Homo sapiens: one gene and its partners. The protein of the gene in region 4 purifies or fractionates together with the protein of the main gene of each other region. This does not show direct contact. Each region holds a gene or a part of one and is shown on either strand. Other genes may lie near its edges.

Region 1 (7,051 bases), on a different chromosome or scaffold from region 4:
CTCACTCTGTTGCCCAGGCTGGAGTGCAGTGGTGTGATCTTGACACACTGCAACCTTTGCCTCCCGGATTCAAGTGATTCTCCTGTCTCAGCCTCCCTAGTAACTGGAATTACAGGCGCCTGCCACCATGCCTGGCTAATTTTTGTATTTTTAGTAGAGATGGGGTTTCACCATGTTGGCCAACCTGGTCTTGAACTCCTGACCTCAGGCGATCCACCCACCTCAGCCTCCCAAAGTGCTAGGCTTACAGGCATGAGACACCGCGCCCGGCTTATATATCATTACTTTCTTGGCTGAGAGCTGTAGTCTGTGGTAGTTGTTTTGTTTTGTTTTTTGTTTTTTTTTTGTAGTTTTCTTGATCGTGATCAATTAAGCAGAAAGTAGAATTTCAGTCAGGTAACCTGTCTATATTAGCTAAATTATCTTTTGCTTATTACATAGAGTGCTAGAAGTATGCTGTCATGGCATATGTCCTAGTTTCTCATCAAATGGACCAAAGTCAGTGATTTTATTTGAAGAGGAAAAATTGAACGTCATTGTAAATTAAGTTGCAAGTTTAGTAACCATATTGTACCACTGTTTGATAAATTTGAACGCTTTATGGTATTTCATATTTAGAATGTTCAAAATAGTACTGAAGTATTCAAATACATACAACCCTGAGCGATATTGAAGTAAAATAAACATGTATTTAAGGAAGTGTCAACCTTCAATTATATACCTTTTTGTCACTGAATTAACACTTATTTCTCACGACGTGGAAGCAGTTTCAGTATGGTTTGTACTAAGCTAAGTGATAGTTGTCATCTGTATGACAATTTAGAATGTTTTCTGTGTCCATTTGTGATCAAAATTATATGTTGCTTTGTGTGATAAAACCTGGTGGTGGTAGTAACTTTGAACACACTTTTTGAACTTAATTTTGTAGTTAATCTTATCCTGATGAGTAATTCTAAAACTTATGACCACTACTAGAAATGAAGCAGTTTTTTGTGTGTGTGTGCCATCACAGTATATACTGACCTTGGAGCTTTCCTAGTGCTCTCAGAGCCATGAAAATATCCTTTCACACAAATTTTCTCAACTTACCCGTAACATCGCTTTGAGTTTCAGTCATACCTAGAGTTGGAAAGTCGTCAAATTAGTCCTCTGTCCTCAAGTATCTGTAAGTCTGAAGAATTTAGGTAAGTTACTTACCTTAAAATCATTGCCAATCCTTTAAACTCTATTTGGATGGCTGTGAAATATTTTAACATTAGGGTTAATGTCATAAATCCCATTCTTTTTTTTTTTTTGAGACCGAGTTTTGCTCTGTCATCCAGGCTGGAGTTCAGTGGTGTGATTTTGGCTCACTGCAACCTCCGCCTCCTGGGTTCAAGGGATTCTGCCTCGGCCTCCCAAGTAGCTGGAATTACAGGCGCCCACCATCACACCTGGTTAATTTTTATATTTTTAGTAGAGACAGGGTTTTGTCATGTTGGCCAGGCTGGTCTCGAACTCCTGACCTCAGGCGATCCACCTGCCTCGGCCTCCCAAAGTGCTGGGATTACAGTCGTGAGCCACGGTGCCCAACCTCATAAATCTCATTCTTAATTTCACTCTAGGACAGAATTATTGTAGCACCTGTGTTCTGTTATTTTAGATTCATTTTAACTTACCTAGACACGGGTACTGTGGTAGTTGTAGAGGTACAGATGTTGAGTTCCCATCCTCCTGGCTTAATGTCACTGGGGTTATTAATACACTTCATAAGCATTTTAGGGACACCTGCTGTCTGCTCAACCCCCAGCAAACCTGATTATTTCTTGAAGACATTCCCTTCTATGCTTGTGCATTGGTAAGGAGGATTAGGGATGATGCATTTAAAGACAAGAGTTTTAGGCTGGGCCTGGTGGCTCATATCTGTAATCCCAGCACTTTGGGCAGCTGAGGTGGGAGGATCATTTGAGGCCAAGAGTTCGAGACCAGCCTGGGCAACAAAGGGAGACTCCCATCTCCACACACAAAAAAATAAAAACTAGCCAGGTGTGGTGGTGTGTGCCCATAGTTCCAACTACTTGGGAGGCTGAGGTGCAAGGATCGCTTTAGCCCCGGAGTTTAAGGTTACAAGGACCTATGATCACACTTCTGCACTCCAGCCTGGGTGACAGCAAGACTCTCAAAACCAAACAACAACAAAATATATATATAGCTCTCTAGGTTTTTATGTTAAATATTAGAGTGCCTAAGAATGTACATGGTTGGCAGAGGATCTTGCAGCTCATAGTGATAAACTTTAGTATTTACATAAAAATACTAGATAGCTAGTAGATTCAATGTTCTGCTTCTGAAAAAGATATATTTTTGGTTTTGCCTTTTAGTGAATTTCTTTTGGATGCTTAACACAATGTTAATATAGTTACAAACCAACTTGCTAATATTTGGAAACCCACTTAAAAGCTATCTTCATTTCATATGATGTGATTTTTAAGATTTTAAATTTGGGGCTGAGTTTGTATCTTAATAATTAAGGCTGCACACATTGACAACTACAAAATAATGCCTGGGAAGATGAGTCCTGAGGCTAATTTTATATTTATGTGGATGAGTGTGGAGGGGGATAATAATTCTGAAATACTTAATCACAGACCTAAAATGTAGATCTATGGGTAATTTTAAATGTTGCCTGTCAAGGCTTAATAGGGACTTGACAACAGCTAGGATGGAAATTATTTCAACACTTAAATATGCTTACTTTGTGCCGGACGCTGTTCTAAGTCTTTTACAAATATTTACTTGATATTTGTATTTTGTGTACTATTTTGATTTCTGCAACATTATTAGGCTTCATACTCTTCTGTGGGAACTGGGTTCAAATGGTTCCAGATGAAAATACAAATAGTCCTGTGATTAGTTTTGTTCTACATCTTATGACAGATACTTCATGAAAGGAAATATGAAAAGGCCACATCTTGCTTTGAAATAAGTGAGATGGAGCCTCTCCCTCTTTTTACTGTTAATGTTCATAGTTTTAAAAATCCTAGAATTTTGCTGCTTTTCAAAATGTTAAGTTGGAAAGCAAGAATAAAATGACCCTTTTTTCAAATGTTTTCTGTACCATTTATTGCATTGTTTACATTTTATGCATCTCATTTCTAAATGAACTCATGGTAACAGAGACTGTAACACTTTTGCATCACCGGAATCTTCTAGGTGTGTAAAATGATGGACGAGTGAATGAATAAATGGGGGAGTGGTTCAGAGCTTGGAATGGCGCTATGAAGGTGGTGAAGTGACGTCCCTACCCCCTCAACACACATATAAAAATTATGAATTTATAAACATTTTCCTCTTGATGTAATTTTTCAATGGAGGGAAGAGGATAAATTCATAGTTCTGGCACTTACATCTGGAATTAGGCTACACAGTCTACGGGAAGCAAGTTAACACAGTCTAACAGATGCACGTGAATTTCATGCTGGGCGAAGATGAACTATGTGGAAGATGACTTATAAGGAGCTTTTATGTTACATCTTGGCAGTTAACACAGTCTAACTGATGCACGTGAATTTCATGCTGGGCGAAGATGAACTATGTGGAAGATGACTTATAAGGAGCTTTTATGTTACATCTTGGCAGTTAACACAGTCTAACAGATGCACGTGAATTTCATGCTAGGCAAAGATGAACTATGTGGAAGATGACTTATAAGGATCTTTTATGTTACATCTTGGCCTGAGGTTAGGAAACTAAAGATGACAAAGGCACTGTTTTAGTATGGGTTTTCTGGTTTCGCTTTTGTCGTGGGGGCGGGGTGGGATAGTGGACTCGTACCCTAACAAAGACCCACTCGAGGCTGCGTGTCGGCCCGGGGGCAGCAGGGGGCAGGAGAAGCTGGCTCTAGACCACGCGTTCCTTTTCACGTGACCAGTCGCTCTCTTTCCCGTGGCGGCCCTGCTTCCGGCAGGGGCATCACCCGGAAGTGGGGGTAGTCGAGGGAGGGAGGGGTAAAGGCGGCTGGCCGCCGCGGCGGGGGGTGGGAAAAGAGAAGCAGAGGGAGGAGTTGTTGCTGCCGCCGCCGCAGCCGCAGCTACTGTGACTTCTCCGATTGTGTGAGCTTTGTTGGAGCCTGCGTACGTGGATTTATCGCTGCCACGGTCTGCGTAGCTCCAGAGGTTTAACCATAGGATAGAGAAACCAGGTAAGTCCTACATTGGCTTCCCGTCGTCCTTTCTCCTGGAGGGGGTCTTCTGTGCTGTCAGTTTGTACTACGAGTGTGGTGAGAAGGTCATGTTAGTCTGGGGCAGTCTCGAAAGTTTCACTTATTCACAATTCAGGTATTAACTACATTTATGTTTTACCTCCCCTAACAGGGGATAGAGGAGGGGAAATTAAATCCTGACCTGTGTCACTTTCTTGTACCCTCTTGGAGAGAATGTCCTGATCATCCATGGCCTACGTTACCCAATTAATTGAGGGTACAAGAAAGTTTGTGTTTGGCATTGAAAGTCACATGGACTGGGGTCTTTGCTTAGTGACACCTCTTTATACTTTGGAAGCTAAGGTTACTAAAATGACCATAATTGATGAAATAATAATTGAAAAATAGATATTTGGCTTCTTGTCTTGCTCTGGGAGCGTAAGGTAAACTGAGAGAACTCTTGTTTCCACTTAGTTTTGTTCATTGTGCCCCCTTTCCAGTAAAGTTACTGTCCATTGTCCGACCCTGTGGCATCTTATCTTTGACACTTTTCTTCGTTGTAGACGTTGAGATTATCTTAAGCACAAACACTTATCGTTTCACAATTCAGCGTTTGTCCAGGATCTGATCTTTATTTTAATCACAGACTCTTTATCTACAATAGTATGGCTTTGTATTGAGAATATGTGCAGAACATTGAATTAGATGATACTGAGGTTATTAATTTTTTTTTTTTTTTGCCGGGTGCGGGGGGGTGGTGGGGAGGGGGTGATGCACAAGAAATAAGACAGAGTTCCTGGCCTCAAAAGAGTTTACTTACAGTAGGCTGGGCGCAGTGTCTGACACACCTGTAATACCAACACTTTGGGAGGCCGAGGAGGGTGGATCACCTGAGGTCAGGAGATCGAGACCAGCCTGGCCATCATGGCGAAACCCTGTCTTTACTAAAAATACAAAAATTAGCTGGGCGTGGTGGCGGGCGCCTGTAATCCCAGCTAGTCGGGAGACTGAGGCAAGAGGATCGCTTGAACCTGGGAGGCGGATGTTGCAGTGAGCCGAGATCGTGCCACTGCACTCCAGCCTGGGCTACAAGAGCGAAACTGTCTCCAAAAAAGAAGAAAGAAAAATAAACAGTTTACATACAATTGAGTCCGAATTGAGTCAGTTGAATTCAGCTATGAAGACAACGGTTTCTAGCAGCCCCACTGACTGAATTACTAGGTTGCTTATCACATCCTTTTCAATGGTTATTTTTGAACTGGCATTTTATTATATTTAACATTTTCTGGTGTCTAAGGTCATGACATGAGAGAGTTTTTTTTGTACTTGAGGATCTCAATGTAGTAGGAAAGAAAGATACACGATTACCTAAACATTTAAAAAATCTCACTAACGTTATATATTAGAAACAGGAGGTGTTATGAGAGTGCAGGGAAGGGAGCATGTGAACTGGGCTTTGAAAAATAGATAGGATTTAGCTTTGCAGGAATGGAGGAAGAGGAAGACATCTATCTGGACTGATAGATAGAAGAAATAATGTGAGCAAAGCCATGGGGGTCTGGAAAGTTGCCCGACATCCAGTAACACACTGTAAGTCAATATTCCTATTTCTAACAGCCACATCTTCCAAGATGTCACTGATTAAAATTAGAAAAAATATAGAATACAAAACTAGTCAGCTCACAAACATATCCAACTGCCCTCCAGCCAATAAGAAAGCTTATATAGAGAAAAAAATACATGGAAATGACAAAAGCAATGTTAATGTATGAGGCTTAATTCTGATGTAAACTCAAATCTAAAAGAGAAAAAATGTAAAACTCGCTATACTTTAATTCTGATTGAGTGTTGTGCCTTAAATATAATTTGGAATCATTTTTAAAATTGTTGGGAATGAATAACATTTTCTGAAGTGAGCAACTGTTCCAGGTTTTCCCCAAGGAATCTCTGCTTTTCCTTTTTTCCTCTAAATTGATTTCTCTCTATTGATCTTCTTAACTTGATAGGAACTATTCTATTCCGATCACAGCCTTAGAAAGATCTTGATGCCTGCCCTCAAGATAAGGTTAAACACTAATCCCTCCAAAGGATAGGTTAACATCTCTGTTCTCTAAAGCAGAAGGTTGATTTTCTTTGAAAAATGCTTGCAGAAGCAGTAAAATTTGCTTACAAAACAAGAGAGAGAGAGAAAAGAGTGCAAAAATAACCCCAGCTAACACACCACAACCTTCACTTCTGTGAGGGCGCTAAAGGAAATACATTTTAAAAAAATAAATTCCTTGTTATAACTCCTTTTATCTATATATTTAAAAGCTCTTGGCAAACTTTATTAATCAAGACTTTGGACATCCTGATGAGTGAAAATAATCTTCATTTGCCAGTTGGGAAAGTAAATTGCAAGGAGAGATTTTTGTCTGAACTCATAGAAGCACTAGCATAGATGAGAATAGTATTTGGGAGTTTTGTCTCAAAATTCCTTCTATTCATCTTTGTTAAAGGGCAGTTCAGGTTTTAGCGTTTTGTTTTTAGACAACGATATTTCTTAGGATATAGCTCAACATGGGGCCGGGGCAAGGGGGAGGCTGGGGGACAGATGAGTGATAGGCAATGGTTAGGCAGAGTATTTTAGTTCACTCTACCATCCCAGCAATCATGTTTTTCCCTCTTAAATCTCAGTCTTCAGGTTGATTTAATGTGATATTACTTGCTTACTTAACTTGCTGAGATAGTTTGGCAGGAAAAATATCAAAATTCCTTTAGAATGTGTTTCATTAAAGTAAAAGGGTCCTGTGTTTCTGATTTTATAAAATGTTCTTACTTTTTCCAGCACTGTTTGCAAATTGAAGTGATTTCCTAATCTTTTTGTGCCCA
Region 2 (4,490 bases), on a different chromosome or scaffold from region 4:
TTGCACCATTGCACTCCAGCCTGGGCGAGAGAGCGAGACTCCGTCTCAAAAAAAAAAAAAAAAAGTAAAGTAATAATAATAATAATACTATATTCTTTTTCTTTTTTTTTTGAGACAGAGTCTTGCTCTGTTGCCCAGCCAGGAGTGCATTAGTGTGATCTTGGCTTACTGCAACCTCCACCTTCTGGGTTCGAGTGATTCCTGTGCCTCAGCCTCCTGAATAGCTGGGATTACAGGCATGTGCCACCAGGCCGGGCTAATTTTTGTATTTTTTGTATTATTATTATTTTTTTTTGAGATGGAGTCTTGCTCTGTCACCAGGCTGGAGTGCAGTGACTCGATCTCAGCTTACTGCAACCTCCACCTCCTGGATTCAAGCGATTCTCCTGCCTCAGTCTCCTGAGTAGCTGGGACTACAGGCATGCACCACCATGCCCGGCTAATTTTTGGTAGAGACAGGGTTTCACCATGTTGGCCAGGATAGTCTCAATCTCTTGACCTCGTGATCCGCCCACCTCGGACTCCCAAAGTGCTGGGATTACAGGTGTGAGCCACCACGCTTGGCCATTTTTGTATTTTTGTATTTTTTTTTTTTTTTGAGATGGAGTCTCACTCTGTCAGCCAGGCTGGAGTGCAGTGGCGCAGTCTCAGCTCACTGCAACCTCCACCTCCCGGGTTCAAGCCATTCTCTTGCCTCAGCCTCCTGAGTAGCTGGGATTACAGGTGCCCGCCACCACGCCTGGCTAATTTTTATATTTTTAGTAGAGACGGGGTTTCACCATGTTGGTCAGGCTGGTCTCAAACTCCTGACCTTGTGATCCGCCCGCCTCGGCCTCCCGAAGTGCTGGGATTAAAGGCATGAGCCACTATGCCCGGCCCATTTTTATATTTTTAGTAGAGACGAGGCTTTCGCCATATTGGCCAGACTGGTCTCGAATTCCTGGCCTCAGGTGATGTGCCTGCCTCAGCCTCCCAAAGTGCTCGGATTACAGTTATGAGCTACCATGCCTGGCATTTTTTTCTTTTTAATGCTTTTTTAGTCTACATAAATTACTACCATACGCTAATGTTTAGAAAGCAAATAAATTGAACCAAATCTGGTCACCCAATTAAAAAACAATTTTACTAATAATTCAGGCCAAGCGCGGACCTCCTGGCCTCAAGCAATCCCCCTGCCTCAATCTCCTAAATTGCTGAGATTACAGGTGTGTACCACCATGCCTGGCGAAGAGTTTATGTACTTTAATTCACCTTTTTCTTGCCACTAACAGATGTCCCAGCTAGTGGAATGTATTTCATGACATATGAATGGCTGAAAAATATCTTCACTCCGGAGGGAAAGAGGTGAGGAAAACATAACTTGGAAGCCACTTTCCCCAGTCATGGGTGCGTTGCCCTCTCCTGTGGGTGAATCTGAAAGCAGAAGTAGTTGTTGTTCCTGGCTCCATGTCTGCTTTCCTCTTGTGGCTGCTGAGGTCCAGCTAGCTCTTCTTACTCTGTGCCTCAGCCAGTGGAGCAAATATTTGAAACAGGTGCATGAAACCTTCTCCAAGGAGTGCCAGCAGCACTGGCCTTATACCTCCTCCCTCCAACCAGTTTCTGCCTGTCTGTAACTGCCCTGTCTGCCACAGGCAGGATAGTCTGAATGCCACTCTCACAGCCTTTGTCTAACTGGGGCTGTGGTTGGTGTTATACAGGGTCAGTGAGCTCAGTGCCCCTCGGATCTTGGTGGCTGGGGGCATTGCAGGGATCTTCAACTGGGCTGTGGCAATCCCCCCAGATGTGCTCAAGTCTCGATTCCAGACTGGTGAGTGGAAGGTAGTGGGGTGGACAGGGGGAGAGTGGGTCCCCAGCACTGGCTAATCCTGGGGTGCAAAGCTCATAAGGCCCTAGGGATACTCACTCTCCATGGCAGCACCTAGCATCTGCCTGACCAATATTCTCCCTCACAGTCATTTGCATTCTAGGAACCCTAGATTCATTTTCATGACAGCCTAAACACAAGGTAAGTGTGATAAGAAGTCAAGTCCACTCTTCCTCCCCCACATGAACAGAAGGGCTGTTTCATTCTTCTTCCCTCGTTTCTATTCCCTTGGCACAAGTAATTCAGGCATTTGTGCATTTGTCCCAAGGTGAACTGTTGTCTATGGACTGGTCCCACATGACCTGCAAGGTGTCCTTTCCCTGTGCTAGTCCTGACCCTTCAGGAAGACTTAACTGCTAGTTTCTCCTTCCTGAAGCCTTAAAAATTGGGTTCTGCCCCACAGCACCTCCTGGGAAATATCCTAATGGTTTCAGAGATGTGCTGAGGGAGCTGATCCGGGATGAAGGAGTCACATCCTTGTACAAAGGGTTCAATGCAGTGATGATCCGAGCCTTCCCAGCCAATGCGGTGAGTAGCTGGCAGGGCTGTGCTTTCCCTCTGGGGCTCAGGGCAGGGTGCATGTGGTTTGACTTTTGCTTGTTCCTGGGATAGGACTGGGGTCTCAGTTTTCCCAAAGCCCTATCTTCAGCCAGAGCATTCCTTATTTGCTCCCTTCCTTGAAGCTGTCAGGAGGATTTGCCTTTGGGGATCTCTGAGGTGAGGGGCTTTGATTTCCTGACCTGGCCATTAGAAGTGGGCAGTTGTGAGGCCAGGCATGGTGGCTAGTGCCTGTAATCCCAGCACTTTGGGAGGCTAAGGCAGGTGGATCATCTGAGGTCAGGAGTTTGAGACCAGCTTGGCCAACATGGGGAAACACCGCCTCTACTAAAAATACAAAAATTAGCTGGGCGTGGTGGCGGGTGCCTGTAATCCCAGCTACTCAGGAGGCTGAGGCAGGAGAATTACTTTAACCTGGGAGGCAGAGATTGCAGTGAGCCGAGATTGTACCATTGCACTTCAACCTGGGTGACAAGAGCAAAACTCCATCTCAAAAAAAAAAAAAAAAGAAGTGGGCAGTTGTGGAATATAAATTTTCTTCTCCTCTTAAAAATGAGAGAGTAGAGCTTGCATCCTTGATGTGGAGTGGGTGTGGGGTTAGGGAGGGGCTCTGGTCCTGACAGGGCCAGCAAAGCATAGTGCTTTGAATAGTCTATGAATAGTTATTCCTGCTGGCTTTTTTCTTCCTCCCAATCCCTTCTTAGGCCTGTTTCCTTGGCTTTGAAGTTGCCATGAAGTTCCTTAATTGGGCCACCCCCAACTTGTGAGGCTGAAGGCTGCTCAAGTTCACTTCTGGATGCTGGAAGCTGTCGTTGAGGAGAAGGAGTAGTAAGCAGAACTAAGCAGTCTTGGAGGGCAAGGGGAGGGGAATGGTGAGATCCGAGCCCTGTGCATGGACTTGGTGAGACTGTTGCCTTAATGACATCCTGCACCGTGTATAACTTAGTGTGTCATTTTGAAACTTGAATTCATTCTTATCAATTTAAGGGATCTTAAAAGGATTTGGAAATGGAACAAGTAGCTTCCAGACCAGATACTACCTGTGGCAAGAATGCTGCCTACCAGTTAACTGCTGGTCCTACCACAGTCAAAGTATTCCTCATTAAAGAGAGAATCTCAGGTTCTCACTGGAGGCACTGTGCATATTTTCAACCAGATCACCAGGAGCTGAGATCTTCTTCAGTCCCTAGCCAGGAATACCCATTTGATTTCCAGGGTGCCATCTAATCCTGGGCTGTACATGTGGATATGGACTTGAGGCCCACCTCTGTGTCCAAGTGGATTGAGCATATATGCCTAGGAGGAGATAGACTGTTAATCGTTGGATTTTGATTTTTTTTTTTTATGCCTGCAAATAATCAAAAGTAAAACTGGAGTAGCCTAATTTTCTGGGAGCAGGTGGAGAACTTTCCCTCCTACACAGTGAGGACAGTCCCAGTCTGCTGGGATAAGTGAGAAAGCCCAGGGTGTAGGAAGGCCCTTTTTACATACTCTTTTCTCATGAGAGCTCACTATTTTAACAATAAACAATAAACGTTGTTTCTAATTTTTGCATTGTGTTATATTTTCTTCTTTTGATTCTGGGACATTTCAGCAGGCAGCCTGTAGCCTTGGTGGAGGCTTTCAGGGATCCAGTATTCTTCCCTGGGAACCTTAGGCTGGGGATCCAGCAGGAGGAGGTGGAGGAGGAGGAAGTTTTGGCTGGCTCTGCCTTCTCTGACTGCCCTAGCCCCGGCTGCTCTAGGGAGGGTGTGTGGGGTGGTGTGACCCGACTGGTAATTGTTCACACAGGCCTCAATGCAAGCCTGGCAGACAGGCCCTCCCAAGGCCCAGCCTGCAACCCATCCCTTCATTTATTCCCCTCTCTTCCCTGAGCACCATGGGTGTCTGAGCTAACAGATGGAGAGTCAGTTGTTCTAAAAGGACAAAAGCAATCTCGGGTTTTCATGTGGGCTTTGGAGTTGCTGTGCGATCTGAGGTAGCTAGCTTAACTTTACTAATCAGGCAGATTATGCTATCCAGGTGTGTCCAGAAAAGGTGAGGGAGTTGGAGAGTCATAAGCTAGATT
Region 3 (7,082 bases), on a different chromosome or scaffold from region 4:
TCCCAGGTTCAAGCGATTCTCCTGCCTCAGCATCCCGAGTAGCTAGGCTTACAGGCGCCTGCCACCATGGCCAGCTTATTTTTGTATTTTTAGTAGAGATGGGGTTTCACCATGTTGGCCAGGCTGATCTCGAACTCCTGACCTCACGTGATCCACCCACCTCAGCCTCCCGAAGTTTTGGGATTACAGACGTGAGCCACCGCACCTGGCCCAGGAAACATTTTCTTCTGGCCAATACTCTGGCCCTTTTGACTGTAAGGAAGTATGTGAAAGGGGGCAGTTTGCATGTTTGCGGAGTGGGCATATGTGTGGGAGTTTATTGAGAAAGATGGGGAAATGGTAAGATTTGTCTCCTGGGGGTTAGCACCCCTCCCGCTTATGGGCTTGGTGTGGTTTAAAGAAAGTGAGATGCAGAAATGCTGATCAAGGTGGCTCTGGGTCTCATCCTGTGAGCCCTGAATGCCCCATGCAGGAAGGGCACCATCTCAGGAGTCAGCTGGGCTTGGTGTCCCACACTGCCCCATGGACCTTGGGTCACTCCAGAGCTTTCCTGAGCCTCAATTTCCTTATCTGTAGAATGGGGATAATGATACCTTCCCCTCAGAGTTGTGAGTTTTACATAAGAAGAGGATATAAAGATAAAGTGGCCCAGGTTGGGCATTCAACAAATGTTAGTTGCTTCCCCACTTTTCCTTTCCCACATCAAGTTTACCTATGCATTGCATGCAAGCATCTCTTGAGGACATGCTATAATATGAGGTGCTATCCTGGCTGGGATGAGGGGAAGAAGCTCAGTAAGGAGCTTGATTCTAATCCTGGGTCTGTATGCCGAATATAGCAGTGAAGTTAGATCCTACAGTATAAGACAGAAGGAGGCAAGTGCCTTAGAATCCAGATGGAGTTCTATGGGACCTTAGAGGATAGAGACTCGATTTGTAACCAGGGCTGGGACAGGTGGGAGATGAGGTCAGATGGGGTGCCCAAGGAGAATGCATTAAACCTGGGTCTTGCAGGATGGTGGGGCTTAGATTTGGGAGGCGAAGGGCAGTTCAGCAGAAATGGTATAAGGGAGATAGGAGTGGCAGGGAGGGAAGGCTGTGTGGAGGACAGCGAGCTGTCCAGCCTGGCTTGGCCAGAGGGCACAGGGAGGAGAACCCTGGGAGACAGACTTGAGAACGTTTAGTTGGAATCATACCACAGCAAAACTCAAATTCCAGGCTGAAGCATTTGAACTTTATGCCAAAGGCACTGGGGAGCTATCGGAGCTTTTTGAGCAGGAGAGTGTGATGTGCTGTGCTTTAGGCAGGCTGATCTTGGCGGTGCTACATGGAACAGACTAGACAGGGTGGAGTGGAAGGAGGTGACTCCATGACCTAGATGAGGGATGGGCAGGTTGAATCCTCACAGCAGCAGTGAGAAAGGAGAGAAAGGATTGGGCAGGAGAGGCACTTTGTGGATCGTTGTAAACATTTCTGTTTATTTTTCATTATAAAGAATTTAAGCGGCTGGGCGCAGTGTCTCACTCCTGTAATCCTAGCATTTTGGGAGGCTGAGGCAGGTGGATTGCTTGAGCTCAGGAGGTTGAGACCAGCCTGGCCAACATGGCAAAACCCCGTCTCTACTAAAAATACAAAAAATTAGCTGGGTGTGGTGGCACGCACCTGTAGTCCCAGCTAATTGGGAGGCCAGCTGAGGCAGGAGAATCACTTGAACCTGGGAGGTGGAGGGTGCAGCGAGCCGAGATTGCACCACTGCACTCCAGCCTGGGTGACAGGGCGAGACTCCGTCTCAAAAAAAAAGAAAAGAATTTAAGCATCCACAAAAGTAGAAACAGAAACATTTAATGAACCTCTACGTGCCCGTTCCCCAGGTTCAACAATGGTTAATTTTTTATTTTTAAGAGACAGGGTCTTTCACTGGAGTGCAGTGGCACCATTACGGCTCACTGCAGCCTCAAACTCCTGGGCTCAAGTGATCCTCCCCACTCAGCCTCCCTAGTAGCTGGGACTACAGGCCCAGCTACCATCTGCCACCATGTCCAGCTACTTTTTAAAAACTTTTTGTAGCGACGAGATCTTGCTTTTTTGCCCAGGCCGGTCTCAAACTCTTGGGCTCAAACAATCTGCCCACCTTGTCCTCCCAAAGTGCTGGGATTACAGGTGTGAACCACCATGCCCAGCCTAAGAATGGTTAATTCATGGCCAATTTTGTTTAATCTCTACTCCATCCACTTTTCTCTTCCATCATATTTTGAAGTGAGTCTAAGATATTGTGTCATTTTATGGCTATTGCAGCGTGCAGGAAGAGGTATGACATTTTGGAAGATGAGTTGATGGGCCGTGCCACATGGGTATTGTGTCTCTGTGTGCCTGTACATACTCTCTTATGTGGAATTGCAATGGCTGATTTGACTCTTCCAAGTTGGGGGTCTTTTAAGGGCAAAGACCACCCTCCAGTGGCCAGGCTGTCTTCTCCTCCCCATGGAGTGCTTGGTATATGGTGCGACCGTCAGTGTGAACAACCTAGTTCCACTGGAAGAAAGAGGCCTGTTATTGGACCCTTTGGGCTATGGCCATCGAGACCACGGGTAGCTTTTCTGCTCAGGTCACGCTCTGATATGTTGTCAAATAAAACACAGGACACTCAGCTGGGTTTCAGTTTCAGATCAACAACAAATATGCCTGTAACATAAGTATGTCCCACACATTGCCCGGGGCATATTTATAGTAATAAATGACGTTATTTTTCTGAAATTCAAATTTAATCAGGCTTTTTTTTTTTTTTTTGAGATGGAGTTTTGCTCTGTTGCCCAGGCTGGAGTGCAGTGGCGTGATCTTGGCTCACTGCAAGCTCGGCCTCTCGGGTTCACGCCATTCTCCTGCCTCAGACTCCCGAGTAGCTGGGACTACAGGCGCCTGCCACCACGCCCAGCTAATTTTTTGTATTTTTAGTAGAGACGGGGTTTCACCGTATTAGCCAGGATGGTCTCGATCTCCAGACGTTGTGATCTGCCCGCCTCGGCCTCCCAAAGTGCTGGGATTATAGGCGTGAGCCACAGCGCCCAGCCCAGGCATCTTGTTTCTATCTATTTATTTATTTTGTTTTGTTTTTGGCTAAATCTAGTCAATCCTATCCTCTGGTCTTTTCACAGAAATCCTGCAGATCAAAGCCTTTGACCTAGGGCAGTGCTTTTCAAAGGGTGGTCCCAGGACAGCAGCATCAGCAACTCCTAGCTCAAAACAAGATCTCAGGCCAGGCGCGGTGGCTCATGCCTATAATCCAGCACTTTGGGAGGCCCACACGAGTGGATCATTTGAGGTCAGGGGTTCGAGGCCAGCCTGGGCAACGTGGTGAAACCCCGTCCCTACTAAAAAAAAAAAAAAAAAAAAAAAAAAACAAAAATTAGCGGGGCTTGGCAGCATGCACCTGTGATCCCAGCTACTCGGGAGGCTGAAGCAGGAGAATCGCTTGAACATAGGAGGCAGAGGCTGCAATCACCCGAGATTGGGCCACGGCACTCCAGCCTGGGCGAAAGAGCGAGACTCCATCTCAAAAAAACAAAAGCAAAAACAAAAAAATCCCAAAATGTCAGCCCCACCCAGAATGACGGAACCAGAGCCTCTGGGGGTGCTGGCATTTTGTGTTTGACCCCCTCCAGTGATTCTTTTGAGGGTCATTGACTGGAGAATGATGCCGATGCCATCACATTACCCGCCCCCAGCCTCTCCCGCAACACACACACAGCACATCCTGCTCTGCTGCGCACCCAGTGGCATGGACCTGGCTGCCAAAGGTGTAGAAGCATAAGTAACATCAGGGGTGTTACAAAGGGCTCTTTCCTTGGGTGTTTGTAGCTTCCCTTAGGGCTGCAGTCACTCGCAGACTGCTGGGCTCTTGGCCTCAGGGCTCTGTTCTGCCCGCCCAGATCTGTTCCTGAGCCTGCAGACGGCTGTGAACCAGAGAATCTATTCTTCAGGCGGGAGTTGCCAGTTGCGGCCAAGGGGGCGGGGCCCGGAGGCGGGAGGGCCACGTGTGCGGGAGGGAAGCAGGAAGTGACTGCGGGAGTGGAGCCGGCGAGAGAGTGGCAGCGGGGGCTGATGGAAGTGCAGTGGGGGCTGGAGAGGGCACCCTAGTGAGTTGGCTTTTCTCTCCTTCGGTGCCTTTGGTTGGGCTCGAGGCCCGGGGTCGGAGGCCATCAGGACAAGAGTGTGGGACTTGGAAGGGCAGCCACCTGGAGCTTGGAAGGGGGTACGCCTGGAGAGAGGAGGGGTTTGGAGGAGAAATTGGAGGCTTTGGCAGGTGTCGGGGCGGGGTGGGAGGGTGAGGGGCGGTGGGAAGGAAGTCCCCGGACCCCGGCTATGTCCCTCTCCAGGGTGATCTGGAAGGCAATGACATGCCTTCCTTTTACAGTCCTAACCCAAATCCTCTTCGTTCGTCCCTTCCTAGGCGGTGTGTGGGGGTACCCGGGATTCCTGGGAGCAGAGGCAGCTACAAATCCAGCTGCTCCCAGGCCCCTCCCACTTGCTCTGGCTGTTAGCTGGACCTCTGGAACTTGACTGGGAATCTGGTTAACTTGCAGCAGGTCTGGGTGGGGCGTGACAGTGTGCATTTCTAACTAATTCCCAGGTTGGGTGGTCCGCGGACCACGCTTTGAGTAGCGAGGCATTAGAGAACTTTTCCACAGTCCTCTCCGCCCAGACCTGAATCCTTCTGCTGGATTCCCCCTCGTGGAGTTAGGGCATGTGTGTGCAGCTCCACTAAGGCCCAGCAGCCCTAGTGCTGTTTCCACTTCTGCAACTTCACCAGCCTCTTGAACTGACTCTTGGAAGCGGAACAACAGGTTTAAAAGGGGGAGAAAGGAAATAAAGAAAACAAACCTGTATCAATCAGCCGGGAATGCCCATGTGCTGCTGTGGCAGGTGTGTACAAGTCTACAGGCTGTTGGCATGTTAAAAGTTGGAACGGTCAGAGAATGATTCTCCCTGCTGCTAACGAATCAGGGTTGATGGAATTAATATCCCCATCGTGAGGAATTCTGAGCCCCATTGTGTAAGCTGTGATGGAGATGCTGTGTCCTAAAGTTGTTACTGGTCTGCCGGTTAGAGAAAACTTCTTGTTCTCTTGGGACTCTGCCAGAAACTTTTTCTTCTCTTGAGACTCTGCAGAAAACTTTCTGTTCTTTTGGGACTCTTCTTTGCTCTTGCCAATCCCACATGGGGCAGGAGAACTCATTTTCTAAGCTCTTGGTATTGTAGAAGTTTTACCAGTTTTATTTATTTATTTATTTTTATTTTTTTTTGAGACAGAGCCTTGCTCTGTCACCCGGACTGGAGTGCAGTGGCGCGATCTCGGCTCACTGCAACCTCCGCCTCCCGGGTTCAAGCGATTACTCCTGCCTCAGCCTCCCGAGTAGCTGGGACTACAGGCACTGGGACTACAGGCACACACCACGACGCCCAAGTAATTTTTGTGTTTTTAGTAGAGATGGGGTTTCACCGTGTTGGCCAGGCTGGTCTCGAACTCCTGACCTCAGGTGATCTGCCCGTCTTGGCCTCCCAAGGTGCTGGGATTACAGGCATGAGCCACTGCGCCTGGCCAAGTTTTACCAGTTTTAATCTTTTGCTTTCCACAGTTTAATGTGCATAAGAATCCCCCATGGAATTCCACAAAATGCAGACCCTGATTCAGAAAGTCTGGGGTGAGACCTGAGTTTCTGCATTCCTAACTAGCTCCCAAGCCGGACCAGTGCTGCTGGTTCTCTGACCACCCTTGTAGCGAGGATTTAAAACAGCAAATAGAGAAGAAACTTCTCCGAGGGGCACTGGGCTTGCATTGCCCGTGATCAATGCTGCTCCTGTTGGGATGGAAAGGATGGTGGCCTCGGTCTTCCCTCTGTGTCCCTTTTTCTTACTCAGGAGGGTGCTCAGATATACATGGGGACAGGCTTAGACGGGTGTTTCCCTATCCCACTAACCACCAGGAACACCCACGAGCTCCCTCTGTTCTGTTCACCAGCCCACAAGATCCACATTGACTTTGGCCTGTTGGCAAATGTAAATTGTTTGCTCTCTTCTGTAGCTGTCAAGAGGCACATTCAAATACAGGAAAGAAAGGTGTTTTTGTTATGCCCTGTCTTGGATGATAAGTACTAAGAGGATGATCCCTTTGTGCTGTTCTTTGTAAATGCTGTTTGAAATTTTGTCCACAGCAACTCGGAATAGATGATTGGTGTAATGGTCCAGATGGCTTGGTTTAAAAACAAAGACCAACCCCTCTTTTTAGGGTGGCTTAGCAAGATGACGGATGTAAAGGGTAGTAGTTTTTTGAAAATGATTTTTTTTTTCTTTAATTGGCGTGGTCACAGTTTTCACAGTTGGTGCAGTTCGTTTAGAGTGCGGGAACTAGAGTCTGATTCCATAGATGCTATTTATCTCAGAGTTTCTGGCACAGGGGCTGAGCCAGGGCTCACCTGGGCTCACCTGGACCTATACCCTTCCTAGGTTTGAGCCTGGGTGTGTTGCTGAGCCGCTTGGCATAAGGGCTGCGTCCACACTCTGCCATGGTTTCCTTCCAGGGTCAATCGAGGCAGCGTCTTCAGCTCTTGATCTGCAGGCTCAGGGCTGCTGGCTCCTCACAGAGCACCGGGAACTGGCAGGGCTGAGCCCAGTGTGGTTGTGTCCAGCCAGCCCTCTGGGTGCTGGCAGACCATCAGGGAGATGAATGAGGCTTTGATATGAGGCCCTGAGCCCAGTGTTTGTGTACCAGAACACAGGGCTTTTCAACAAATGGGTTTCTCTGCCTTGTAACTTTCCACAGGGAGAGATCTGATTGTCATCTCAGATCCAGAATTTTAAGCATGTTAAAGTCTGGAGGAGGTTCTCTGGACTGAAATGAGAGGGAGTGGTACTTCCCTTCCTTTCCTTGGTGGGCGGTGGTGTAACTTCAGCTTCAGCAGCAGGGTGCTGAGTTGACCAGGGGACATTCCATTCCTGGGTCCTTTTGCTTGTCCTTGCTGACTGTCCTGTGCAGGTAAGCTGGCCCTTTTCCATCCAGCACATATTTTTCAGGGGTTACAAAGCCCT
Region 4 (7,033 bases):
TGAACTGGTAGCTACTAGGGGCTCAGTGACAACTATCTGGAGAGACATTCATTCATCTCGATCCCACATGAAGAGAGCATTTCTCCTGATTATATAAGAAGTGGGTCAGAAAAGCCTGTCCAGTGAAGTATTGCTGCCTTCAAAGTGTAGAAAACCTCACTAAATCTCCTTAGTGGAAGGAAGTTCACTGTACAACAACTTATTTCATATTTATGATAGTATTTAGACATATACAAGGCTTTTTCACATCAAGAAACCTTATTCACATAAGGCATCTCTATCCTGCCCTTCATTTTACCAAGTCATCTGGAGCAGCAATCGCCAACCTTGTTGGCATGAGGGACCAGTTTTGTGAAAGACAACGTTTTCATGGACTGGGGTCAAGGAATGGTTTGGGGATAATTTAAGTGCATTACTTTTATTGTGCCCTTTATTTCCATTATTATTACATTGTGTAATAATATATAATAAAATAATTATACAACTCACCATAATGTAGAATCAGTGGGAACCCTGAGCTAGTTTTTCTGAAAGTAGATGGTACCATCTGTGAGTGATGGGAGACAGTGACAGTTCATCAGGTATTAGATTCTCACAAGGAGCCCACAACCTAGATTCCTCACATGAGAAGTTCCCAATAGGGTTTGCCCTCCTATGAGAATCTAATGCCACTGCTGATCTGACAGGAGGTGGAGCTCATGAGGTAATGTGAGTGATGGGGAGTGGCTGTAAATACAGATGAAGCTTCACTTACTCATTCGCTGCTTACCTCCTGCTGTGCAGCCTGCTTCCTGACTCATCCATGGACCAGTACTGATCCATGGCCTAGGGGTTGGGGACCCCTAATCTAGAGCACTTGGAGAACTATCTGTTCTCCAAAGCTGATCAAATGCTATCATTAATGTATCTAATATTTTAAGAAAGGGTAACACTGTTGAGAGCCAAATAGATACATGGCCCAGAGCAAGCTTAAGTTACTAATAACTCCTTTTTCAGCTCACCCCCTGCTGAAGGCATGAGTTTGAATCTCAGTTTTGCCATTTGCTGTGTAATGTATGCAATTATATTTAGCATCATATTTCTCACTTGAAAAATGAAAATAATACATTTAATACTTAACAGGAGTGTCAGAAAGTATATTAGCACTTGGTAATTTATACAATACAATATAAAAGTAAGAAATTTTTATTTTATTTATTTTTATTTTATTTTCAGCAATAAGAGCTAACTGCCATCAAGAGCCATCAGTATGTCTTCAAGCTGCATGCCCAGAAAGCTGGATTGGTTTTCAAAGAAAGTGTTTCTATTTTTCTGATGACACCAAGAACTGGACATCAAGTCAGAGGTTTTGTGACTCACAAGATGCTGATCTTGCTCAGGTTGAAAGCTTCCAGGAACTGGTAAGAAAATAGTTCTGGCCAGAATCAAAGATTCAGCCCTACAAGGATATGTTTTCCTGTGAAATTATCTAAGAGGTAGGTTTAGACATCTGCTTTTACATTGATTTTTTTTTTTTTTTTTTTTTTTTGCATAACGAAAGAGTAACCTAGCATGTATTATATTTTACAGTGAACCATCTAAAATTACCTTAATATTCGTGGCAGGAACAGGCCCAGAGGGCAAGCAAGCCAGAGCCTTCTTTGACTTGTGAGCCAGAATTGTGCAAATAAGGATTAGAAAAGTATTGGTAGAAACCCAGTTTTAAGTTTGTATGAAGTTAGCAACATTGTTTCAAAATAAATCAAACAAGGCCAAGAGCAGTGGCACATGCCTGTAATCCCAGCACTTTGGGAGGCCAAGGCGGGTGTATCACTTGAGGTCAGGAGTTTGAGATCAGCCTGGCCAACATGGTGAAACCCCATCTCAACTAAAAAATACAAAAATTAGCTGGGCATGGTGGCATACGCCTGTAGTTCCAGCTACTCAGGAGGCTGAGGCAGCAGAATTGCTTGAACCTGGGAGGTGGAGGCCTACAGTTAGCTGAAATCATGCTACTGTACTCCAGCCTAACAGAGTGAGACTCTATCTCAAAAAAATAATAAAATAAAAACAATAAGTCAAGCAAGAATGATGTCATAGAGGTTGGTAGACTAAAAAGCTACAGAAATCTGTTCCTCCACTGAGAAAACTATTGAACTGTCAAAAACTGTCTGAAGTAACTATTTTGGAATTCTCGAGTCTAGTTAAACACTGGAAGCATCAAGGGAAGAGTTTGATAAAGAGGATGATAAATTTTGGTTAATGTTGGTGAATTTCAGCCTTTCCACTCAATAATAACTATTTTCCATACCCCATTATTGCAGGGATCCATGGGAACTGCTGCCCATGTTCTTGTAATGAATTCCTGCAGCCAGGGTGAACAATAAGCACCTTTTTGTCCAAATGTCAGGGTTATTGCTGATTTCTGCCTTTGAATGCTGAGGGGCAGACACAGAAGTGGGCTATCATTGCATCAGTCCTCATCAGCTGAAGTGGCTTCCCAAGGATTTAAATAAATAGTATGTGTTTTTCCTCCCTTTAGGAAGCAGTCATTTAAGACAATTTTTATTAGATAACTGGCTGACAGCAGAGATAACAGAACAGAGATTTCAATGACCATGCACAACAGAGAATAAAAATAGTTGGGAAAAAATCATGACCAAATGACTCTGAGCCACAACAACCAAGATTTGACAATCCCTGAAGAGCAAAATAATTAAGTTACCAGAGTTACCACAACATAGTATTCATAATGTCCAGTTCTCAAAAAAAAATTACAAAACATGCAAAGAAAAGTATGGTTCATTCACAGGAAGAAAAAGTAATCTGACAGAAACTATCCCTGAAGAGGCTCAGATATTAAAAATATGAGTCAAAAATGTTAAATCAGCTGTCTTAAGTATAACCAATGAGTTAAAGGAAACTAGACAAAAAGCTAAAGGAAACCGAAAACATAATAAATGAACAAAATTAGAATATCAATATAAAGGTAGAAATTGTAAAAAAGAACCAAGCAAAAATTCCAGAGCTGAAAAGTACAATGACTGAAATTTAAAAATAATTTTAAAAACTCAATGAAGAAGTTCAACAGCAGATTTGAGAAGTAAGAGATCAGAAAACTTGAAAATAAGATAATTGAAACAATCCAGACTAAGAAAAACAAAGAAAAAGAATGAAGATAAATAAATTCTAAGGAACCTGTAGGACATCAGCAAACATACTAACATATGTACTGTAGAAATCCAGGAAAGAGAAGAGAAAGAGAAGCAGAGAAATACACTTAAAGAAATAATGAACAAAACTTTCCAAAATCTGAGGAAATACATAAATATATACATCCAAGAGGCTCAATGAACTCCAAAAGGGTAAACTTAAAGAGATCTACATTGAGACAAAATATAGTCAAGTTGACAAAATCCACAGAGAGAATTTTGAAAGCAGCCAGAATGAAGCAACTCATCATTTACATAAGACCCTGAATAAAATTAATAGCTGATTTTCTCTGAGAAACCATGGAGATCAGAAGGTAGTGGAATGGCATATTTAAATGTCTGAAAGAAAAAATAAAACTGCCAACCATGAATTCTATGTATAGCAAAGTTGTCCTTCAAGAATGAAGGAAAAAGTAACACATTTTCAGATAACCAATAATTAAGGGATTTTATTACCAGTAGACATGTGCTACAGAAAATGCTAAAGGAAACCTTTTAGGCTGAACTGAAAGTACACTAGACAGCAATTCAGAGCCTCCAAAATAAAGAATATTCATAAAAGTAACAATAGAGGTAAATATAAAACCCAGAATTACTACATGTGTCATATAGTTTATAACTTCTCCTATTTATAGCTTTCTATATTTATATTTATCTATAACTTCATAGGCAAATGAATAAAAATTATAAATATGATAGTGGTCATATAATGTATAAAGATGCAATCTGTGACAGTCTTATGAAGCAGGGATGAAGACATATAGGATCAAAATGTTTGCATAGTTATTGAAGCTATGTTGATATTATGAAATTATATTGTTACAAGTTTAAGATGCTAATTATAATTCTCAAGGTAACCACTAATAAAATTACCAAAATTATGCAGAAAAGGAAAAAAGAAAAACAATACACTATAAAAAACCAATTAAATACAAAAAAAGTCAGTAACAGACAACTTGAGAAACAAAGACATATAAGATATAGAGAAAACAAATGATTAAATGGCAAAAGTAAATCTTGTTTTAGTAATCACATTAAATAGAAAAGGATGAAGCCATCCTATTAAAGGGCTGAGACTGACAAGTTGGCTAAAAACTAAAATAAATTAAAAAGAAAAACAAGACTCATCTACATGCTGTCTATAAGAGACTTGCCTTAGATATAAGGACACAAAGAAGTTGAAAGTAAAAGGACTGAAAAAGATATTCCATACAAACAGTAGTAACCAAGATAGTGCCGAGTGGCTATATTTTTGTCAAACAAAATAAACTAAAGTAAAATTTACAAGAGAAAAAGAAGGGCATTATGCATTGACAAAAATTTTGACATAGCCAAATAATTATGTTATAAAATATATGTACTTAATAATACAGCCTCAAAATATATGAAGCAATAATTGCTATAATTTAAGGGAGAAAAGAACAGTTCTATGAAAAGTTAGAGAATGAAATATTCCACTTTCAACATGAGATTAAACAACTAGACATAAGATCAATAAGGAAATAGAAAATTTGAACAACACTATAAACCAATTATCCCTAACAGGCATATACAGAAGAATCTACCCAACAAGAGCAGAATATTAATTCTTCTCAAATGCACATGGAACATTCTTAAACCATATGTTAGGCCACAAAACAAGTGTTAGTAAGTGTGAAAATTTGAAGTCATAAAAAGTATCTTTTGCAATTACAATGGAATGAAGCTAGAAATCAATAACTAGAAAAACCAGAAAAGTCACGCATATGTAGAAATTTAAAAACCCGCTCTTCAACAGCCATTGGTCAAAGAAGAAATCACAAGGGACATTAGAAAATACCTTGAGACAAATGAAGTAAAAATACAAATAGCACGTTTATGGTATACACTGAACATAGTTCTAAGAGGGAAATTTATAGCTGTGAGCAGTTAACTAAAAAAGAAGAAAGATCTCAAATCCATAGCCTAACTGTACACTGTAAGGAACTAAAAAAAGTAAAACAAAAATAGAAGTCATCTTTATGATTTGAAAGAGTAAAAGATTTACCTAATAAGTCCCTAAATTTACTAATAATAAAGAAAATTGTTTATATATTTAATTGCGTTAAAATTCAGAACTTGTAATCATAAAAAGGACAGTACACATTGACAAGGAAACACAGCAAAGGAAACCAGCCTATGCTGCTGCTGTTGTGAGGATAATTTGGTACACTTACATTAGTTTGGTGTCTTTTCTTTCTCTTTCTTTCTTTCTTTCTTTCTCTTTCTTTCGTTCGTTCGTTCGTTCGTTTCTTTTTGAGACAGAATCTCACTCTATTGCCCAGGCTGGAGTGCAGTGGCGTGATCTTGGCTCACTACAACTTTTGTCTCCCAGGTTCAAATGATTCTCATGCCTCAGCCTCCCAAATAGCTGGGATTACAGGTGCATGCCATCACGCCCAGCTAATTTTTGTATTTTTTTTAATAGAGAGGGGGCTTCATCATGTTGGCCAAGCCTAGTCTCAAACTCTTGGCCTCAGGTGATCCGCCTGCCTCGGCCTCCCAAAGTACTGGGATTACAGGTGCTTGGCCTGGTGGTGTCATTTCTTAAAGTTGACAAAAAGCATATCCTGGGGCCTAAAAATTCTATTCTAGGACAGGTGCCAAGAATGTCATAGTAGCATACATTCCAAACTTGATAAAACCCTGGTGTCAACCGATAGTATAATAGATAAATTGGAGAAGAGTCATACAAAGGAGTACAATACAGAAACAAAAGTAACCAAATTATCAACAATTTCTCTCAGTTTTAAATTATCTTCTTTTGATATGTATGATAATATAGCACACCTATTCTGTATGTATTACTAAACAATACAAAATCAAAAGGAAGAAAATTATGAGTAGTTAAGAATATAGCATAGCAGCAACATTTCTGGGAGAGGATGGGTTATGTTAGATTAATGAATATCATCTCTGTGTTTTCTGAAAGAATTTCCTGTTGAGATATAAAGGCCCATCTGATCACTGGATTGGGCTGAGCAGAGAACAAGGCCAACCATGGAAATGGATAAATGGTACTGAATGGACAAGACAGTAAGTTCTAAAAATCTGGCAGTAATATTTGTATTTGAATTTACTTTGCATTAAATCTGAAGTGTTCTCTAGTTACATGCTTTAAAAAATTCTCATTTTAAGGTTAGTCATGAAAGAAGATGGTGCCAACTTGTATGTTGCAAAGGTTTCACAAGTTCCTCGAATGAATCCAAGACCTGTCATGGTGAGGTAGACTGACTGTGAACTTGGCTCCAGGCTTATCTATGTCATTTTCAAACACTTTCATTTTAAGCAAACCATACAATATCTTTAAGTCTGTTCCTTACCTCCACAACAAAATTAAATTGCACTTGTCCTCCTGATTTCACAGGGTTGATGTGAGGAACAGAGGTTTTGATGTATCAGGGAAAGATTATGAGTGACAGCAATTATACCTATTATTTAAAATAAGACAATAGTTTTAAAATTTTAAAATGGGTAAAGTTTGGCACTAGAAAATTTAATCTCAATTGTATATTTATAGGATCTTCAGATTACTAAAAAGATTTGAGATAATGCTGGAAAAATTGGATTCACACAATTTCACTCAATGTTTGTCTGAGAGATGAGACAGTTTTGAAAAGCTACTTTATTGTAATACATTCATCAATATTGGAAATATAACTTTATTTAATAAAAAGAGCCCCAGACTGGACATTGGCAGGTTTGAAATGAGTTTTTTCTCATTAGCTTTTGACCTTGGATGGGATGGTAAGTTTTAGAAATCAGAGAACATGTACATTTATACATTGTTGTATCTACACTGCCTTGCACATTGTGACTGCTTC

The links.
Region 1: the proteins of CLEC2D (region 4) and ATP7A purify together in Homo sapiens (co-immunoprecipitation; 3 studies listed by BioGRID and IntAct, with this or other methods). This does not show direct contact.
Region 2: the proteins of CLEC2D (region 4) and SLC25A20 purify together in Homo sapiens (affinity purification with mass spectrometry; 2 studies listed by BioGRID and IntAct, with this or other methods). This does not show direct contact.
Region 3: the proteins of CLEC2D (region 4) and SLC39A11 purify together in Homo sapiens (co-immunoprecipitation; 3 studies listed by BioGRID and IntAct, with this or other methods). This does not show direct contact.

Annotation. Positions count from the first base shown.
Region 1 is NC_000023.11:77,906,656-77,913,706, forward strand, and holds the start of ATP7A (copper-transporting ATPase 1), read left to right. Parts: upstream 1-4,037; 5' UTR 4,038-4,180; intron 4,181-7,051. UniProt on the Homo sapiens protein: ATP-driven copper (Cu(+)) ion pump that plays an important role in intracellular copper ion homeostasis.
Region 2 is NC_000003.12:48,856,409-48,860,898, reverse strand, and holds the end of SLC25A20 (mitochondrial carnitine/acylcarnitine carrier protein), read left to right. Parts: intron 1-1,271; coding exon 1,272-1,344; intron 1,345-1,697; coding exon 1,698-1,807; intron 1,808-2,267; coding exon 2,268-2,392; intron 2,393-3,126; coding exon 3,127-3,189; 3' UTR 3,190-3,973; downstream 3,974-4,490. UniProt on the Homo sapiens protein: Mediates the electroneutral exchange of acylcarnitines (O-acyl-(R)-carnitine or L-acylcarnitine) of different acyl chain lengths (ranging from O-acetyl-(R)-carnitine to long-chain O-acyl-(R)-carnitines) with free carnitine ((R)-carnitine or L-carnitine) across the mitochondrial inner membrane, via a ping-pong mechanism.
Region 3 is NC_000017.11:73,089,661-73,096,742, reverse strand, and holds the start of SLC39A11 (zinc transporter ZIP11), read left to right. Parts: upstream 1-4,054; 5' UTR 4,055-4,132; exon of another isoform or gene 4,133-4,248; intron 4,249-4,626; exon of another isoform or gene 4,627-4,919; intron 4,920-6,892; exon of another isoform or gene 6,893-7,029; intron 7,030-7,082. UniProt on the Homo sapiens protein: Zinc importer that regulates cytosolic zinc concentrations either via zinc influx from the extracellular compartment or efflux from intracellular organelles such as Golgi apparatus. May transport copper ions as well.
Region 4 is NC_000012.12:9,686,687-9,693,719, forward strand, and holds part of CLEC2D (C-type lectin domain family 2 member D), read left to right. Parts: intron 1-1,215; coding exon 1,216-1,400; exon of another isoform or gene 1,401-1,475; intron 1,476-6,141; coding exon 6,142-6,245; intron 6,246-6,347; coding exon of another isoform or gene 6,348-6,429; intron 6,430-7,033. UniProt on the Homo sapiens protein: Receptor for KLRB1 that protects target cells against natural killer cell-mediated lysis. Inhibits osteoclast formation. Inhibits bone resorption. Modulates the release of interferon-gamma. Binds high molecular weight sulfated glycosaminoglycans.